Linked DNA regions of Homo sapiens: all the other regions are linked to region 1. Evidence: fine-mapped expression QTL. A gene starts in region 1. Each other region holds a variant in brackets. All regions are shown on one strand. Distances are from middle to middle.

Evidence for each region. PIP is the estimated chance that this variant, and not a neighbour inherited with it, causes the effect.
Region 2: its variant is fine-mapped to the expression of BACE1 in whole blood (GTEx, PIP above 0.99).
Region 3: its variant is fine-mapped to the expression of BACE1 in testis (GTEx, PIP above 0.99).
Region 4: its variant is fine-mapped to the expression of BACE1 in whole blood (TOPMed, PIP above 0.99).

What each region holds. Positions count from the first base shown.
Region 1 is chr11:117,313,677-117,318,822 of GRCh38, reverse strand. BACE1 (beta-secretase 1) reads left to right here and starts at 2,567. Exons shown (of 9, transcript NM_012104.6): 1 at 2,567-3,288. The coding sequence starts at 3,028. RefSeq lists silencers at 2,839-2,928, 3,019-3,128 and enhancers at 3,657-4,178, 4,179-4,701.
Region 2 is chr11:117,394,911-117,400,056 of GRCh38, reverse strand. CEP164 (centrosomal protein 164) reads right to left here. Exons shown (of 33, transcript NM_014956.5): 22 at 5,054-5,137; 23 at 4,866-4,934; 24 at 4,335-4,510; 25 at 3,877-4,003; 26 at 3,446-3,507; 27 at 2,744-2,966. Among named protein-coding and RNA genes, the nearest start is that of CEP164, 70 kb to the right of the region's middle. The variant A/G (reference allele first, on the strand shown) is at 2,090.
Region 3 is chr11:117,290,632-117,295,777 of GRCh38, reverse strand. It overlaps BACE1 (beta-secretase 1), which reads left to right. Exons shown (of 9, transcript NM_012104.6): 3 at 431-647; 4 at 1,770-1,907; 5 at 2,590-2,724; 6 at 3,965-4,066; 7 at 4,729-4,878; 8 at 5,119-5,146. It also overlaps BACE1-AS. Among named protein-coding and RNA genes, the nearest start is that of BACE1, 23 kb to the left of the region's middle. The variant G/C (reference allele first, on the strand shown) is at 2,670.
Region 4 is chr11:117,420,982-117,426,127 of GRCh38, reverse strand. No RefSeq gene overlaps it. Among named protein-coding and RNA genes, the nearest start is that of CEP164, 96 kb to the right of the region's middle. The variant A/T (reference allele first, on the strand shown) is at 3,055.

The DNA.
Region 1 (5,146 bases):
CCAGCCTGGCTAACATGGTGAATTCCCGTCTCCACTAAAAATACAAAAATTAGCTGGGCGTGCTGGCGCGTGCCCGTAGTCCCAGCTACTTGGGAGGCTGAGGCAGGAGAATCGCTTGAGGAGGCAGAGGTTTCAGTGAGCTGAGATCATGCCACTGCATTCCAGCCTGGGTGACAGAGGGAGACTCCGTCTCAAAAAAAAAAAAAATTAGCCAGGCATGGTGGTGTGCGCTTGTAATCCCAGCTACTCAGGAGGCTGAGGCACAAGAATCGCTTGAACCCAGGAGGAGGAGGTTGCAGTGAGCTGAGATGAAGCCACTGCACTCCAGCCTGGGTGATAAAGTGAGACTGTTTCAAAAAAAAAAAAAAGGACTCAAAAAGTAAGTAACCAGAGTGGGCTCTCCCAGTTACTAATTGAACCAGAATTAGAACACTGGTGGTATTGGAATACTTCTGATTCTACAGAAGTTTTAAATATTTAAGTCATCAAATCCATCCAGTTTTTGGGTTTGTTTACCTTCTAGGGTTTGTTAGGGAGGTCTTCTTCAATATAAGATCATGAAAATATTCTATTTTTCCTGTAGTTTTATTTTAATGTTAAATTCTTTAATCTATCTGGAGTTTATTTTCAGAGGAATGAAATTGGATTTGGTTTTTTTTCCTTCCAAATGGGCTGCCAGACGTCCCAACAACAGTTTTTGAATAATGCGTCCATTTTCCTCTAATACGAATGCCATCTCTATCATATCTACAATTCCCATAGATACATTTCTCTATTTTGATTTCGATTTTTTTAACTTGTGTCTAATCATCTTATTGATTAGGGTTTTCTATCCATATCATATAATCTGCAACTAATGATTCCTTTGCTTTCCAACATATATAACACTTTTTCCATTTTCTTGTCTTTTGAGTCAATCAGACCGGTCTGAACCGTGTAGGATAAGAGTAGAGATAATGATCGGCCGGGCGCGGTGGCTCACGCCTGTAATCCCAGCACTTTGGGAGGCCGAGGCGGGAGGATCACGAGGTCAGGAGATCGAGACCATCTTGGCTAACACGGTGAAACCCCGTCTCTACTAAAAATACAAAAAATTAGCGGGGCGTGGTTGCAGGCGCCTGTAGTCCCAGCTATTCGGGAGGCTGAGGCAGGAGAATAGCCTGAACCCGGGAGGCAGAGCTTGCAGTGAGCTGAGATCCCACCACTGCACTCCAGCCTGGGCGACAAAGCGAGACGCCTTCTCAAAAAAAAAAAAAAAAAGAGTAGAGATAATGATCTTTCCTTTCCAAAGCCTGCCTTTAATGGGAGTAACGTAGCCTGTTATTACTACATTTGTTGTTGTTGTCGTTATCTTGTTTAAAAAGTTTCCTGGCTGGGTACAGTGGTCCATGCCTATAATCCCAGCATTTTGGGAGGCCGACGTGGGCGGATCACTTGAGGCCAGGAGTTCGAGACCAGCCTGGCCAACATGGTGAAATCCCATCTCTACTAAAAATACAAAAATTAGCTGGGTATGGTGGCGCATGCTTGTAATCCCAGCTACTCAGAGGCTGAGGCATGAGAACTGCTTGAACCCGGGAGGCGGAGGTTGCAGACTTGAGACCATGCCACTGCACTCCAGCCTGGGTGACAGAGCAAGTCTCCTTTTCAAAAGAAAAATGAAGATTCCCTTTCATTTTTTAAAAAAATTAAATCAGAGTAACTGCTGAATTTTATCAATGGCTTTCCACATTTGATAAACAATATATTGTTAAAACCATACCGGCTTTTCTCCTTTAAGCTATTAGAACTCTAACGCTTTTGGTTCAAGGCTTTAAGCTCTTACCAGTTAATATAGAGATACTTTTCGGAGTGTTAACACTTTAAAGCTATCAACAGCCATTTCTCCTCAGTCTGGCTGATGGTGCAGAAAATCAGAGGAGCCATAAGGATTCAAGTAGAGCCTCAAGGGCACAAACAGGTTCAGATGGGAGAAGACCCACTGGCTCTTACCTGCCCGCAGATCGCAGGCGCAGGAGAAAATAAGACAACTGCACTTTCCCCTTTTGGACCCTGCTCCGCTGGTTTGCAGCCTGGAAAAACTCTTCCTCCCCTTTCATCCTGCTCCCTCAATCTCTGCTCGTGAAAATCCTACCCATTTTTAAACGCTCAAATTAAATACCACCTTCTCCCACTGAGTCTTCCCAGATCCCCTAGATGTCCCTCCAAATCCCTACTCCTTAATGCCACATCGTATAGTGTGAAACCCCACCGCGGCAGGAATCACTTAACTGTCCCGTGTAGAATCACCGTTTATTTCTCTCTGTATCTCCAGCGCCTGGCAGTGTGCCTGGCATACAGTGGGTGCTCCTTCCATGCTGAAAGAAAGACTGACAGACGGGAGGTGTGCCCCTCTCCATCCGTCTGGCCCTTCCCGCCAGGGCCTTGCAGGGCGGACTCCACCTCGGCAGAGGGCATCCCAGACCCCTCTCCAGCCCCGGAAGCCGGATTGCCTGCCATGGGAAGACTACACTTCCCAGCGATCCCAGGGAAAAGCGAAAACCTTTTGGCTTTGACAGCCGCCGCCACAAGTCTTTCCGCCTCCCCAGCCCGCCCGGGAGCTGCGAGCCGCGAGCTGGATTATGGTGGCCTGAGCAGCCAACGCAGCCGCAGGAGCCCGGAGCCCTTGCCCCTGCCCGCGCCGCCGCCCGCCGGGGGGACCAGGGAAGCCGCCACCGGCCCGCCATGCCCGCCCCTCCCAGCCCCGCCGGGAGCCCGCGCCCGCTGCCCAGGCTGGCCGCCGCCGTGCCGATGTAGCGGGCTCCGGATCCCAGCCTCTCCCCTGCTCCCGTGCTCTGCGGATCTCCCCTGACCGCTCTCCACAGCCCGGACCCGGGGGCTGGCCCAGGGCCCTGCAGGCCCTGGCGTCCTGATGCCCCCAAGCTCCCTCTCCTGAGAAGCCACCAGCACCACCCAGACTTGGGGGCAGGCGCCAGGGACGGACGTGGGCCAGTGCGAGCCCAGAGGGCCCGAAGGCCGGGGCCCACCATGGCCCAAGCCCTGCCCTGGCTCCTGCTGTGGATGGGCGCGGGAGTGCTGCCTGCCCACGGCACCCAGCACGGCATCCGGCTGCCCCTGCGCAGCGGCCTGGGGGGCGCCCCCCTGGGGCTGCGGCTGCCCCGGGAGACCGACGAAGAGCCCGAGGAGCCCGGCCGGAGGGGCAGCTTTGTGGAGATGGTGGACAACCTGAGGGGCAAGTCGGGGCAGGGCTACTACGTGGAGATGACCGTGGGCAGCCCCCCGCAGACGGTAAGGTGGTCAGGCCAGCCCTTAGCCCTCCGCCTGCATGAGCAGAGGGGAGACAGGATGGGGATGCCTCAAGCTAGCCCCTGCTCAAATGGGCTGGTGGGGACAGCAGGAGGGACCCCTCCCCAGCCATTCCCCGGGGGTCACGTGGTTGTTGGCAGAAGTGTTCCCAAGCTCCCCATTCCCTCCTCGTCTCCCCTGGCTGCCTAGTTCCCCTTGCTCCTCATCTGACACATACGCCGTCTGGAAGGATTTGAGGCAAGACAGACACATCAGCTGGGGACCCTGACCTGGAGGAAGGGTCCGCCACAGGGGCACTATAACAGGTGTCAGCCCCCTCTGACAGTGGCCCAGTCCGAGTCTCCCAAATCCCACCACTCTAGAGGTTGGCCACCCAACCTTGTCCCCTCCTCTGATTCCCACCATTGTTCCCAGTACCTCCAGGACCAAGGAATCCTGGCAGCAGTTGAATAAGCACCTTGCTCCCACCATCTGGGCTGCCACTGGTACGGCAAAGTGAGGTTGTCGAGGCCCCCCTGACTGCACTCCGCCCGGAAGCCCTGGACAGGCTCCTGCCGTCCCCTCCTCCTCCCCTTCTCCCTCTCGCGGTCTACACTCCGGCCCCTCCCCCACCCCACACCTCCCCAGGCCAGAGGGGAACTGAACTGAGCCTGGTGAAAGAACAAATGGTAGGAAAGGAGCCAGAGCTCCCTTTTAAGAGTGGGACTCCTTCCATGGCGGGGGAGAGGGGAGTTACAGAGAAAACACTGTTATGCCCTCCCCATCCTTCCTGACAATCTCCAAGGTACCTTCAAGGTGGCTGGTGGAGGTGGCACCCTCTGCACCTCTGTGGGTGAGCAGCCCTCCATGTGGGGTGCTGTGGCTGACCTCTGTGTGCATCTGCCGCCTCTGTGGGGCAGTCCGGGCCCGGGCAGCCCTGTGGTTCTGTGTATGCTGGTGCGTGTCACCTTGAATCTGATCCTGCACATCTGTGAGCCACCTCCGGATCTGTGTCTGGGAAGTCTGTCCTTGGGAGGGTCTGTGAAGGTGGGAGTGTGTTTGGGGTGGGCGGAGGGGACAGCCACACTTTCCTGAACTTCTCAGACAGCTGGATCTGGGAGAAACACAAACCCCCACCTCCCAATTACTTTACAGAAGCCAGCCTTCCTAGGTGCGTGCTCCCCAGCCCTACCTCTCAGCTAGTCGAAAGCCTGGTCTTCCCCACTTTCTCATCCTCTTTCCTGTGCACCATAACTTCCCCAGCAGTAGTCTCCAGTGGGAATTTGGGAGGGCAGGACAGAAGCCAAATCCAGGCCCTGAGCAAACAGAACGCTAGATGATATCGTCAGGGAGCAGCAGGTATGCAGAGACCTGGGACCTACTCCTGTTTCTGCGACTGACATGCTGTGCACACTGTGCATGGACCCCATGGCACGATGCAGGACGGGGCTGCAGAACCCACACAAGCTTTGAGGTCAGACAGTCCACGAATCCCAGCTCTACCACCCACAGCTTTTCCTCTTCTCAGCTGTGTGGCCTTGGGCAAATTGCATAACCTCTCTGAAACTACTGTCATATCTTTAAAATGAGTAGGAAATGAGACCTCCTTTGCAAGGTAATTGTGAGGATTAAGTTGTGAGGGTTAATTGTTCTAGGTGCTTTCACCCAGAACAATACACCAGCATATAAAACTGACCTCCAACAAATATGAAGTCACTTTATCCTTGTCTGGCCTGTTCTGCCTCTTCAATTCTATGCAATGAGGCATAAAAACTCGGATGTCCTGGGCCTCCACGTTTTACATGTATAAAACTGGGGTATCCTGTAATCCCAGCACTTTGGGGGGCCAAGGTGGGCAGAT
Region 2 (5,146 bases), 81 kb before region 1:
AAAGACTTCATGACTACACACCAAAAGCAATGGCAACAAAAGCCAAAATTGACAAATGAGATCTAATTAAACTAAAGAGCTTCTGCACAGCAAAAGAAACTACCATCAGAGTGAACAGGCAACCTACAGAATGGGAGAAAATTTTTGCAATCTACCCATCTGACAAAGGGCTAATATCCAGAATCTACAAAGAACTTAAACAAATTTACAAGAAAAAAACAAACAACCTCATCAAAAAGTGGGCAAAGGATATGAACAGACACTTCTCAAAAGAAGACATTTACGCAGCCAACAAACACATAAAAAAAAAGCTCATCATCACTGGTCATTAGAGAACTGCAAATCAAAACCACAATGAGATACCATCTCACATTGGTTAGAATGGCAATCATTAAATAGTCAGGAAACAACAGGTGCTGGGAGAGGATGTGGAGAAATAGGAATGCTTTTGCACTGTTGGTGTAAGCATAAATTAGTTCAACCACTGTGGAAGACAGTGTGGTGATGCCTCAAGGATCTAGAACCAGAAATACCATTTGACCCAGCAATTCCATTACTGGGTATATACCCAAAGGATTATAAACCATTCTATTATAAAGACACATGCACACATATGTTTATTGCAGCACTGTTCACAATAGCAAAGACTTGGAACCAACCCAAATGCCCATCAATGATAGACTGGATAAAGAAAATGTGGCACATATACACCATGGAATACTATGCAGCCATAAAAAAGGATGAGTTCATGTCCTTTGTAGGGACATGGATGAAGCTGGAAACTATCATTCTCAGCAAACTAACACAGGAACAGAAAATCAAACACTGCATGTTCTCACTCATAAGTGGGAGTTGAACAATGAGAACACATGGAAACAGGGAAGGAAACATCACACACCGGGGCCTGTCAGGGTTGGGGGCTAGGGGAGGGATAGCATTAGGAGAAATACCTAATGCAGATGACCGGTTGTTGGGTGCAGCAAACCACCATGACACGTATATACCTATGTAACAAACCTGCATGGTCTGCACATGTATCCCAGAACTTAAAGTATAATTAAAAAATAAAAAGAAAGAAAAGAAAAACCCATTTTTTGAGGAGAAATTCAAGCTAGCTGCAAAAATTTTCATATGTAACAAGGAGCAGAATCTCCAAGACAATGGGGAAAATATCTCCAGGACATGTCATAGGTCTTCATGGGCAGCCCCTCCCATCACAGACCCAGAGGCCTAGGAGGAAAAAATGGTTTCGTGGGCCAGGCCCAGGGTCCCCATGCTGTGTGCAGCCTAGGGACTTGGTGCCCTGCATCCCAGCCACTCCAGCCATTGCTAAAAGGGGGCAAGGTACAGCTTGGCCCATGGTTTCAGAGGATGCAAGCCCCATACCTTGGCAACTTCCATGTGGTGTTGAGCCTGCGGCTGCACAGAAGTCAAGAACTAAGGTCTGGGAACCTCCGCCTAGATTTCAGAAGATGTATGGAAACACCTAGATGCCCAGAAAAAAGTCTGCTACAGGGGTGGGGCCCTCATGGAGAACTTCTGCTAGGGCAGTTCAGAAGGGACATGTGGGGTCAGAGCCCCCACACAAAGTCCCTACTGGGGCACTGCCTAATAGAGCTGTGAGAAGAGGGCCACCGTCCTCCAGACCCCCAGAATGGTAGATCCGTCAATAGCTTGCACTATGCACCTCAAAAAGCCGCAGATACTCAATGCCAGCCTCGGAAGGCAGCTGGGAAGGGTTTGCCTTCTGGCTGCATTGCTGTACCCTGCAAAGCCACAGGGGCGGAGCTGCCCAAGACAATGAGAACCTACCTCTTGCATCAGCGTAACCTGGATGTGAGACATGGAGTCAAAGGAGATCATTTTGGAGCTTTAAAATTTGACTGCCCCACTGGATTTCAGACTTGCATGGGCCCTGTAACCCCTTTGTTTTGGCCAATTTCTCCCATTTGGAATGGCTGTATTTACCCAATGCCTGTATCCCCACTGTATCTAGAAAGTCAGTAGCTTGTTTTTTATTTTACAGGCTCATAGGCAGAAGGGACTTGCCTTGTCTCAGATGAGACTCTGGACTGTGGACTTTTGGGTT[A/G]ATGCTGAAATGAGTTAAGACTTTGAGGACTGTTGGGAAGGCATGATTGGTTTTGAAATGTGAGGACATGAGATATGGAGGGGCAAGGGGTGGAATGATATGGTTTGGCTCTGTGTCCCCACCAAAATCTCATCTTGAATTGTACTCCCATAATTTCCACGTGTTGTGGGAGGGACCTGGTGGGAGATAATTTGAATCACAGGGGCCATTTCCCCCATACTGTTCTCGTGATAGTGAATAAGTCTCCCGAGATCCTGATGGGTTTATGATGGGTTTCTGCTTTTGCTTGTTCCTCATTTTCTCTTGCTGCCACCATGTAAGAAGTGCCTTTCGCCTCCTGCCATGATTCTGAGGCCTCCCCAGCCATGTGGAACTGTAAGTTCAATTTTCTTTTTCTTCCCAGTTTCAGGTATGTCTTTATCAGCAGCATGAAAATGGACTAATAGTGTTATCATGAGGTTTAAATTATTTACTACTAGAAAAGGTGTTTGCATACTATGCATTGCCAAGTAAATATAAGTGACCCAGGGCCAAGGTGGCCACTCTCATGGAGTCCCGAGAATGACCAACTGAGGGGGAGCCCAAAGGACTGTTTTGCTGACTCCCCCCGCCTCCCCCACACAGGGCTGGCAGGCCCTTCCCAAAGCTCCTGACCTTCTCCAGGTTCTTGCGCATATCTTCCAGGGCCTTGATGCCTGGTGGGTCTTTGGCCACCTCCTGCGCACTGGCCAGCTCATGGCGCCAATGCTGCTGGGCAGCTTTCAGAGCTGTCTGCCGCCTCCGCATGGAGCGTGTCTGCTGCACAAGGAACTCCTTGGCACTACGGAGGGCTACCCCCTCAGCAGAGAGGAGGTGCCAGACATTGTGGGAGGACAGGCTGGAGCAGGAGAGTTGAAGAAGGAAAACAGAAGCCTCTAAGAACTCTGCTCTGGGTCACACAGCCCCTTCCCCAGCAGATGCCAACCCTGAGCACAGACCAGAGCTGCTGGGCTAGGGCTGGGCACTGTGAGTGCAGGGATGCCACTGTTCAATACCCACAGTGCGCAGTGCCTGGGACTGACAGTGCCCCCACCCTGACTCTGAGAGGGATCAGGCCTGGGGCCTCCAGATAGATGACCAAACACTTCCAGCAATCTGCTTCTCCACTAGAGGAGAATGCCATGTCAAAGGTCACAGTGGGCAGTTTCTTGGCTTGCCAGAGAAGATTCCTTAATCCTCCGGAGCCTTCCCCATGAACTAAGCCCCACTGGTGATCACCGTCTCCTCACTTCAGCTCACCCCAGCTCTATGATGCAGGTACTCACTTACCCCTTCATGGTACCCTAACCTCAAATAAGACAGGCTATGGGAACTCACCTGTCCAAGTATAAGTCCTCCTTGCTCTGGGAGAGAGAAGAAGACACCTCTTTGGTCTGGTTCTAGGGACACATGGTAGAAAAGTCCACTGAGTGTAGCAAAAGCAGACACCCTGCAGGTTCAAGACCCCAAAGCCCCTCCCAGTGGTCTAGACAAGGAAATGGCTCTCTAGCTGCCAGGCACTGTTTACTTATAGATATCATCTGACTGGTGGAGACGACTGGTAGCTGGGAATAAGAACAGACCAGGTCCCATAGAGAACAGAGCCAGCCCTTCCTGATGCCTTGGCCCACCTTATACTCCTCCCCTCCTGAGGCTCCACCCCTCCTGATGAGCTGTCCCCTCTGGAAGTACTCCCCTGATGCCCAGCCCCTCCCAATGCCCCACACCATCCTGGTGCCCCAGCCCCCAGGCCCCAGCCCCCAGCTCACTGTTCCAAGGGATTTCCTCAGGTCCTCAATATGGAGATCTGGCTCAAAATGTGGGGAAGCATTATTTTCCTCAACTGTCACTTCTCTCAACAGGTGCTGCTTCTTTTGAGCTTCAGCCTCCAGGCTGCTGTGGAAGGAAAGATGAGTGAGAGGCAGGGCAGCGGCTGGCGATGGGGGGGAGGGGTGAAGTGGGTCAGAACCATCTCCACCCCCTCACTCCCATCCGTCAAAGTCCCTGAGGAAGGGCTCAGGCACGAACAATAGCACCAGAGATCCCCTGCTTTTCACAGAATCTTAACAACCCCAACTCCCTACAAAATGTAGCCACAGGCTCTTCTGCCTAGCTCCCAAGCTGGGACTCCACCTCTCCCTATTAACTGGGCCATGACACAAGCAGCAGAGGTCAGAGGGCAGGCAGGAGGCAGCCAGCAGGGCTAAGTGCAGGGTGCCCACGCCACCTGAAGTGTTTCTGCAGTTGCTGGCTCTGAGCCTGCAGCAGATCCACTTGGGACTCCAGCTTCAGCTTGCGGGCCTGCAGCTCATCAAGAATTTCTCGGAGCTGCTGGTTTGACTGCAACAGGTGGGTGTGCTCCTTCTGTGCCTCCTCCAGCTGCTGATGGGTGGCTGTGGCTTCCTAGGGGCAAAAGGAAAGATAGAAGCACCCAGAGACAGCACAGAGAGAAGCCAGGGAGCAGACAGCACGAGAGGGTAGGGAAGCCAAAGGAGGACAGGCTGGGAATGAATTCAGAGCCACTGAAGTCACCACCTCTGAGGTCAAGAGGTCTGCAGGCTCCTGTCCTACCACAGTCCCACTCCCTTGAGGTTCCCAAGTGGGGTCCACAGAGTGGCACTATTTGTGGAATACTGGCCAACAGAGTTTGGAACCCCAGTGCCCTGGACAGATCAGATGAACAAAATGTGGGGAACAGGGAGAAGAAAGACAGGAAATGGAGGAAGAACAGGAGGGAGGACAAAACAGGGAGACAAACCTCACTCTTCAGAGCAACCTGCCTCTGCACATCAAGCAGCTGCTGCTTCTCCCTCCGGGCGGTCTCCTCCTTGCAGGGAAGAGACAGGATTTTCTGGCTGACTGCAGACCCCAGGTCTGAGGGGCAGAGCCTGCCCTCTGCTAGAGAAGCTATGACTCTGAGGTCAAGGACTCCTGCAGATCCCTCACCTGGACCTCCAGCAGAGCCAATCTGGCCTTGACATCTTTAGCTCTGGTTTCAAGGTCCAACTCTAAATCCTGGAGCTTCCTTTCCTGCCCAGA
Region 3 (5,146 bases), 23 kb after region 1:
ACTTTCTCTACCACTCGGATGGTACCACTAGGTTCCAAGGCAGTAAGAGAGTCAATGGTTCCTTTTCTCGGGGAGCTTGACGGAGCCAGAGGGCGGAAGAGATGCCCACTAGCTGTCCCTGCAGCAGCAGCAGCAGCAGGCACAATGCACAAAGCCCAGGCTTGTTCTTCACAGGGCCTGAGCTCAAGATCTAGGAATATGAGCAATAGATAGGAGAGCAAGCCTCACCAATGGTTCCCTTCATCTATCTGCAAGCCCACTTTACACTCTGTTCTGGGTGGTGAGTCTAGGGATGTTTTGCTGAGCAGCCTGAAAGCAGACTCTAGGATTCCCCTGAGATGAGATAAGGTGGTGTTTGGGAGTAAGTTTAACTTAGATCCTTATACCAGTTGTGGTTATGCATCCACAGATCTCTGCCTTCTTTCCACAGGTCCAGCACATACCGGGACCTCCGGAAGGGTGTGTATGTGCCCTACACCCAGGGCAAGTGGGAAGGGGAGCTGGGCACCGACCTGGTAAGCATCCCCCATGGCCCCAACGTCACTGTGCGTGCCAACATTGCTGCCATCACTGAATCAGACAAGTTCTTCATCAACGGCTCCAACTGGGAAGGCATCCTGGGGCTGGCCTATGCTGAGATTGCCAGGGTGAGAGGAACAGGGCTTGGCCCTACACACTCTATGCACACTGCACTATACAGAGAAGGAATTAGGAGAGAGAAGGGGAATTAGCAGAAGGAGGGCAACAATCAGTTTAAAGGATTATTTAACAGGGGTATAGGGTGGCAGTCTAAATTTTAGCCCTATAGAGGGCAGAACCATAGTGACAGAAGCTGTGATAGGTACAAGAATAGGCTGTGCTTTCTATGTACTCTTAAGATCTTTTTTTTTTTGAGACGGAGTTTCACTCTTGTTGCCCAAGCTGGAGTGCAATGGTGCAATCTTGGCTCACTGCAACCTCCACCTCCTCGGTTCAAGCGATTTTCCTGCCTCAGCCTCCCGAGTAGCTGGGATTATAGGCGCCCACCATGACGCCCGGCTAATTTTTTCTATTTTTAGTAGAAATGGGGTTTCATCATGTTAGCCAGGCTGGTCTCGAACTCCTGACCGCAGGTGATCCGCTCACCTCGGCCTTCCTAAGTGCTGGGATTACAGGCATGAACCACCGCGACCAGCCACTCTAAGATCTTTAATAAAGGCCCCCATAAATTTGAAGCAGGTTAGGCATAGGGGGATCAAAGATATATGAACCTGGCCAGGCGTGGTGGCTCACACCTGTAATCCCAGCACTTTGGGAGGCCAAGGCGAGCGGATGACCTGAGGTCAGAAGTTCAAGACCAGCCTGACCAACATGGTGAAACCCCATCTACCCCATCTCTACTGAAAACACAGAAATTAGCCGGGCATGTTGGCGCATGCCTATAATCCCAGCTACTCAGGAGGCTGAGGCACGAGAATCACTTGAACCCAGGAGGTGAAGGTTGCAGTGAGCCGAGATCGTAACATTGCACTCCAGCTTGGGCAACAAGAGCAAAACTCTGTCTCAAAAAAAAAAAAAAGATCTATGAATCTGTGAACCTATCAATACTGTCCTGTTTGCATTGCCAGGGCTCCTGCTAACCCTTCCTCTGCCAAATCTCAGTGCCTTAAGATGGTCTTTCCCAAGGAGCATCCCCCAAGCCTTCAAATTTGCCTTCCAGTTTAGACAGGAAGCTGGCCTCTGCCTTTAGGGCCGTATGAGGACTCACTCCTTGTCTCTTTCTGCCAAAGCCTGACGACTCCCTGGAGCCTTTCTTTGACTCTCTGGTAAAGCAGACCCACGTTCCCAACCTCTTCTCCCTGCAGCTTTGTGGTGCTGGCTTCCCCCTCAACCAGTCTGAAGTGCTGGCCTCTGTCGGAGGGAGCATGGTGAGTAGGTCCTCAGAGAGGGGAGGTCCTGGCATTGAGGGAGAGATGGGTGCCATCCTCTCCCCTTCCTGAAAGCTACACCACAGTTTTGGCTCCGATACTTAGAATCAGGAGGAACCTCTTTATATTCCCTACCCTTACTTTATTTTTCCATTCTTTTCTTTTTTGCGTTATTCCAGAAAGGAATCAAGGCACCTATGGTAAACTTGGAAAGGAAGGCAATTAGGAAAATTTCAAAGGAAATGAAAATAAGACCTGTTGAATTAAAATTATTCAGTTTGATGGTCAGAAGGCAGAGATATAAGAAGTTTGTCTATTTATTAATTAATTAGAACAATGGTGAATGGTTCTCCAATAAGCAGAGAAAATAAAACTTATAATATAAACAAATAACCATTCATTCAACATTTATTGTGGCAGTTTAGATTTAAATAACTTTATATCAAGGGCTGTATGATTCTGAAACAAATAATTAAAAATCCCGGAAAGTCTTTTCTCCTGAACACATTTAAGAAACTAGAAATCACTTTGGGTATGATTTGTTTAGAAGCAGGAAGATGAAAAGGGTAGCCTGTAGAAGACCTTGCCACCCCAAGAAATCACTGATCTTATTGCTTGGTCCTTGGGGGACTCACTCTCCTTCTGTGCCAGGACACGGGTACCTGCCTCTTTTTTTCCCTAGATCATTGGAGGTATCGACCACTCGCTGTACACAGGCAGTCTCTGGTATACACCCATCCGGCGGGAGTGGTATTATGAGGT[G/C]ATCATTGTGCGGGTGGAGATCAATGGACAGGATCTGAAAATGGACTGCAAGGAGGTAAGAAAACCAAGGGAGAGCCTGGGAACATAAGGGGGTAGGCAGTACAATGTGAAGGAAGACTCTGGTTATCATGTTGGGAGGATGAGGCAGAGGTAATAGGACCTGCAGAAAGGGTTGGAAGTTGAGCCTAGAACAGTCAGGGGCTTAATGGTCACACAGCAGGATCTGCGGTTTGGGGCCTAGGGACTGGTAGTGAAAAAAAAAACATGGAACTAGTTCTGATGTCTGGACTCTAGTCACTGCCTTGCTTCGTAGCCTTGGGCAAGTCTTTTGTGAGACAGGGTGATAGAATGAAGAGTCTTGTCTTTGGAGTCAGGAAGACCCAGATCTGAATCTAGCTCTGATTTGTACTAGCTATGTACCCTTAGGCCAGTTACTATTCTGTGTCTCAGTTTCCTTATCTGCAAAACAGGTAAAAACAACTTTCTCAGAATATCAGAGATAATGTGTAAAGTGTTTATCTCTGTGGTTGGCAGTACTCAATAAAAGGTAACTAAATCATTTATGTCTTCCTTCCCTAGATTCTTATGTATGTTAAATTAGAATAGATATAAATGTACTAAGAAAAGTTAAAAGCGGCCGGGCGTGGCTGTAATCCCAGCACTCTGGGAGGCCAAGGCGGGGGCAGATCATTTGAGGTCAGAAATTCGAGACCAGCCTGGTCAACATGGTGAAACCCCATCTCTACTAAAAATAGCCAGGCGTGGTGGCAGGCACCTGTAGTCCCAGCTACTTGGGAGGCTGAGGCAAAAGAATGGTTTGAATCCAGGAGGCAGAGGTTAGAGTGAGCCGAGATCACGCCACTGTACTCCAGCCTGGGTGACAGAGCTAATACTCCATCTCAAAAAAAAAAAAAAAAAAAAAAAAAAGAAAAGAAAAGTTAAAAGCACTAAACAAGGTATTTTTATTTTCAAGTTTGGAGACTACCTGCCCACCCAAGATTAACAAGAATAAACATTTACCAAGTGCCTTCTCTCTGCTGGGCACGATTCTAAGTGCTTTACATTGCTGATTTATTTAATCCTTACAATAACCCTTTGAGGTAGGTGCTATTTTTATCCTCACTTTAGAGATGAAGGAACTGAGGCACAGAGGTTAACTTGTCCAAGCAGGTACACTTAGGAGGTGCCAAAGCCAAGATGCCAACCCAGCTGGGGCCCCAGCAGTAACCCCCTACTGCCCAGAGCCCAGCATCAAAAACCTTTTGACTCTTTTAACTCTCTCTTTTCCCTCTTAGTACAACTATGACAAGAGCATTGTGGACAGTGGCACCACCAACCTTCGTTTGCCCAAGAAAGTGTTTGAAGCTGCAGTCAAATCCATCAAGGCAGCCTCCTCCGTGAGTGGACTAAGGATGGGGGTAAAAGAGATGGTACAGTGTCAGAGGGAGGCGGTGAGAGTCACATTCTTCAGCAACAGCCAAGATGTCTGCACTTAGACCCTTCTACTCAGAGCTCTTAAAACACTCTTCCCCTAGCCAGGCGTGGTGGCTCACGCCTGTAATCCCAGCACTTTGGGAGGCCAAGGTGGGCAGATCACTAGGTCAGGAGTTCAAGACCAGCCTGACCAACAGGGTGAAATCCCATCTCTACTAAAAGTACAAAAATTAGCTGGGTGTGGTGGCGCACGCCTGTAATCCTAGCTACTCAGGGGGCTGAGACAGGAGAATCACTTTAACTCAGGACGGTGGAGGTTGCGGTGAGCCATGATTGCGCCACTGCACTCCAGCCTGGGCAACAGAGTGAGACACTGTTTCAAAAAAAAAAAAAAAACTCTTCCCCTTTATGGCTGTCACTTTGCTCATCACACAATCCCCCGGTACAAAAGTTTGACATCACACTCCCTCTCTCTTCCTGTAATCCTCTGGTTGGTTTACCCCTCCCCACTTTAGATATTTCACTGGAAAAGCAAATGAAGGGCCCAGTTAATGTATCTGAACATGGGAGGGGCGAGATGATAAAGAGGCTTTTCCTCATTGTTATCCCCTTCTTGCCAACACAGACGGAGAAGTTCCCTGATGGTTTCTGGCTAGGAGAGCAGCTGGTGTGCTGGCAAGCAGGCACCACCCCTTGGAACATTTTCCCAGTCATCTCACTCTACCTAATGGGTGAGGTTACCAACCAGTCCTTCCGCATCACCATCCTTCCGCAGGTATGTCCCAGCCTGAGTCAGGGGGATCTCTCTTAAAAGTACACACTGGGAGACAGTGAGCAGGTATGGCTTGCCAGAACTTGGAAGACAAAACAGATGAGTAGTGTCCAGCAGTAAAGGGGTCTCAGAAAACCCGTTAGAGCTCAGGGATGGTAAAGGGAAGGGCATAGATGCCTACAAGGCAGAGATGGGGTGAAGGAGAGTGAGGAAGACACTCACCCTGTGATTGCTTACCCCTAGCAATACCTGCGGCCAGTGGAAGATGTGG
Region 4 (5,146 bases), 110 kb before region 1:
AACCTCATTGCAGACTTGGGAGAAAGGTATCACGATTACCACGTGACAGGTGAGAAGGTTAGAGGAGCTAGAAGAGATGGGAATGAGATTTAAACTCATGAGCGTCCAATTCCTTAACTACTGAGCCATACTACCTGCTGTTCCACTGTTCAAAGATTAGAGTTTCAGTTCTTCCCCCAGGATGTTGCCAGGGGAAGAGTCCGCCAGGTCCAGGGAGCAAGCTGGACGCATGGGCAGAAAAACAGTTGAGGCAGGTGACCCAATATGCAGCACAGGATGGATCAAGGGCTCCAAAGTACTTTACCCTGGTGAGGGGCGGTGGTAGAAAAGGTGGAATTCAGCTCTGGGGAGCTGTTGGAGGTCTGGGACCTGAGGTGGACTCTGTAGGATGAGAAGGATTTGGAAAGGCAACAGAAAAGTAAGATGTGGGCCAGTCTAGCTTGTATTCCACTGGGCTAGGCCCCTTATTATAAAGCACAAAGTCTAGAAATTCAGGCATACTTGAGCAAAATCCACACGATTTTATTTGCTAATAATCTCTAACTTCAGTACGCTTTGCAGGGTTGTTTGAGACAGCATCTCACTCTGTCACCCAGGCTGGAGTGCAATGGTGTGATCACGGCTCACTGCAGCCTCGACCTTTCTGGCTCAAGTGATCTTCCTGCCTCAGCCCCTTGAGTAGCTGGGACTACAGGCACATGCCACCATGCTCGGCTAATTTTTGTACTTTTTTTTTTCCGTAGAGACAGGGTTTCACCATGTTGCCCAGGCTGGTCTCGAACTCCTGGACTCAAGCAATCCTCCCGCCTCAGCCTCCCAAAGTGCTGGGATTACAGGTGTGAGCCACTGCGCCAGGCCCTTAATATGTTTGTTAGCTAAACCACAAGCCTGCCTGTTTGATCCACACCCAGAAGCTAATTCACAAATCAGTGGCACTCCTGCTCCTCATTCATCCCCAGCTCATCCTCATTGAACTCTATGTATCTGGAACAGTCATCTTACACATTCACTTGCTCCTTTCCAAAACTCCACTTTGTCTACCATGGATAAGATGACCATCTGCCCTTGAGAGCCTTGATACTCTACATGTGGGTCACAGGCCAGTGGCACCAGCACCACCGTCACCTAGGAGCTTGTTGCAAATGCAAAAAAAATACCAGGCCTCACGCCAGAACCACTGAATCAGACTCTGCACTTCAGCAAAATCCCCAGGGGACCCATATGCACATCAACGTTTGAGAAACCCTCCTCTAGAAGACCTTCAGAGAGATTACCCCTTGTTCCCCCATTCTACCAACAACCAGAGCTAGACTAGTGGGTCTCAAACGTAGATGCACATCAGATTCACCTGAGGAGCTCGTTAAACAATACAGAAGCCCAGCTCTCACCAATCCTAACAGAATAGGAATTTGCTGGTATGCGGCCTAGGCTTTTTTTTTTTTTTTTTTTTGAGACAGGGACTTGCCCTGTAGCCCAGGCTGGAGTGCAGTGATGCTATCACGGCTCACTGCAGCCTCAATCTCCCCGACTCAGGTGATCCTCCTTCCTCAGCCTCTCGAGTAACTGGGACTATAGGCACTTGCCACCACACCTGGCTAGTTTTTGTATTTTTAGTAGAGAGGGGGTTTCATCATGTTGCCTAGGCTGGTATTGAACTCCTGAGCTTAAGCAATCGCCCACCTCGGCCTCCCAAAGTGCTGGGATTACAGGCATGAGCCACTGCACCTGACCAACATTTCTATTTTTATGGTGGTAAAAGATACATAAAATTCGCCATTTTAACCATTTTAAAATGTACAATTCAGCAGCATTAAGTATATTCACCTTGTTGTAAATCACTATCCATTTCCAGAACTTTCTCATCATTCCAGAAAGAAACTTTGTACCCATTAATCAATAACTCCCCATCTTCCTCTCTCTCAGCACCTGGCAACCACCATTCTACTTTCTGTCTGTATGAACCTGCCTATTCTGGGTACCTTGTATAAGTGGAATCATACAATATGTGTCCTTTTGGTTCTGGCTTATTTCACTTAGCATCATGTCTTCAAGCTGCATCCATGTTGCAGCATGTGTCAGAATTCCACTCCTGTTTGAGGATATTCCATTATTTACGACATGTTGCTTCTCCATTCATTTCCTCTCCTGGTGGACACGTGGGTTGCTTCTGCCTCTCAGCTATTGTGAATAATGCTGCTATGAACACAGGTGTACAAGGATCTGTTTGAGCCCCTCTTTTCAATTCTTTTGGGAATATAGCCAGGACTGGAACTGCTGAATCACATGCTCATTCTATGTCTTACTTTTTGAGGAACGAACAAACTGTTTTCCCCCAGGCATCTGTATTTTTTGTTTGTTTGTTTGTTTGTTTTTGAGACGGAGTCTCAATCTGTAGCCCAGGCTGGAGTGCAGTGGCACCATCTCGGCTCACTGCAACCTCCACCTCCCGGGTTCAAGCAATTATCCTGCCTCAGCCTCCTGAGTAGCTGGGATTACAGGCATGCGCCACCACACCCAGCTAATTTTTGTATCTTTGGTAGAGACAGGGTTTCACCATGTTGGCCAGGCTGATCTTGAACTCCTGACCTTGTGGCATCTGTATTTTTAACAAGCGAAATGATACCCAAGTATTTGTTCATTCACCAAATACCCAGAAGCACTTCCAATGATCTGGCACTGAGCTGGGCACTGGAGATGCAAAGGCCCTGTGGGTCTCTTCCTGCGCTCAAAGGCTCACTCCCCGGAGTGTGCGCAAACTGGCGGAGGCGGAAGGAGGGAAGCCTGGGTCAGGGAACAGCAGGGAGGGTTTGCTGTCTGCCAAAGCCTCATGATCCTCCACAGTGCACAGTTGTTGCGGGGAAGTCGCTACGCATCCCGTGACTACAGTTCCAGGCCCCCGATTCTCAGAGAAGGCGATGAGACTGAGCTTTGACCAGCGGAATGTGGCATAAGTGATACACGCTACTTTCAGGTCCAGCTCATAAAAACTTCCCTGGCCACCCTCTGCTCTCTCCAACTGTAAGTCAATGCCCAAGGTGAACTTGGAAGCCACTT[A/T]TTGAAGATGGCAGATCCTCTATCACCCTGGCTTATACATCGATGTAGCGCAGAGGCCCCTCTATCCCCTTCAATGCCAGCTGGACTTTATGTGAGCAAGAAATAAACTTGCAGTAAGCACCGATACTTTGGAGTTTATTTTACAACAATTAGCATCATCTTAATTTATGCAGGAGATGAAGGGGAACTTGGCTCCCCATAGAAATTCTCCCTTGATAGATCAGGCCCAGGGCATCCTCCCCCGCACCGCCTGCCATACCATGTCACCCACCATACCATGTCACCTCCTCTTACCCTACATATTGGATTCCTATACAGGTAAAGGGTGGGAAAGGCAAAGGGAGACGCTGGTGAGCTTAGAGAGGAGGAGGGCATCTGTGTGTCTGTAGGAGAAGGGTGGGAGAACCAGGCTGAGCATGAACCCTGAGTCAGGGCTCTGTCCTTCCTCCCAGAATCCATGTCCTCTTCTGGGCAATGACAACAATACTCTAGGCCGAAGGAGGAATAGATGCCAGCTGGATTACCCTGGAGGTGATCCATACTTGGTTTTAGTGTCTCTAAGAATCGCACAATCTCAGGACTCAAAGAGACCTTCAACGCCACCTGGTCCACGCTTCCACCCAAATTGGGAATTCCATCTGCAATCAGCAAGAGTGGTCTGGCCTTCCCGTGCACACCTCCTGATGGAGAACTCATCACTTCCCCAGCCAGCACATCTCACCTGTGACAGCTCTAACAGCAAAACCTCCCTCACACTAAGCTTGGGTGGCCCCTCCAACTTCTACTCACAAGGCTCGGTACTGCCACTCCTGGGGGGCACCACAAAACAAGTCTCATCCCTTCCCAACTCAGAAGCCCTCCACAGATGGTATTTGAACATCGTCCTCAGCAGACAGGCTCCCCAAGGGCAGAGAAGGGTTCCACTGTCTCTTCCAGAGAAGGGACAGTGCCTGACTTAATAGGAGCACAACATATGTTAGACATAGATGAACAAAGGGTAAACAGTGGGAGAAACGGGCAAGGAGTAGACCAGTGAAGGCCGAGATCTCCTGAAACATTGGTTCTCTCCGCATAGTGTCCCCAAGTTACAAGAAAACAACACAACAGAATACCATCATGCCTGCTGCCGTTTGCTGAGAGTCTACTTGAGTCAAGCACCCTGATAACCACTTAGCACGGATACTCTCCTAGTTTTACCACTACCCTGTAAAAAAGAGTAACTCCTATAAGCACAAAACCCAAGTGGTGGTGTCTCAGGGCCGTAGTGCCAGTCAAAGAACCTCAATCCACTCAGCCACCAAAACGAAAGTTTTAAATAACTCAAGTTATCTGCTTTTGTTTTTGTGATCCTGAAGGGGTCCGAAGAGCAGATGTAAGTGACACCCGCTGACACCCTACGGAGCCTGTGCCTCCCACATCCCCCCACACACTGCCTGCTCTTCTCCAGCCCTGCTCAGCTCCGCCCTCCTCTCCTCTGGGGAATGTTCTCTCACATTCATTTCCCCCCATTTTCCATTAGGAAACAGCAACAGTTGGGCATAGGGGAGGCAGAGGAGGTGGGAGAAACCGCAGGCAAGGCAGGCCTCCTCTTTGGTGATTCGTGGGAAGGATCTATGGATGGGAAATTAATGTGTTTGTAATTTCTGCCCTGAAGATGTGTGATCTCCATTTTATTGGCTAAGAAAGAAGTCAAAGAGGTCAGGTGACTTGTACAAGGCCACTCAGCCGGCAAGAGGCATCAGCCAGGGTTTGAATTCCAAAGCCGGTGCTCACCAAACCACTTCGGATCCTTTCCAGAAAGCCAGGCGGCCCCCAGAAGGCGCCATGTGTAGAGTTCCTACTATGTGGCGGGCACTGCGATGGAAACGCAGGGGCTGCGGAGTCAATCCTGCTGCTCCCTTGCCAGCTCTGTGACCTCGGGAAAGCACCTTCGCCCTCATGGGCCTCAATTTCCGCTTCTATGAAATGCGAGAATAACTCCCATGCTGCCAGGTTGATAAGACTGAAAGGAAATAATGAGGTTAAAAAGCTTTTAACTATGAAATGGGGATTAGACAAGATACAAACCAGCAGACCAGAGGGTCAGATTCCA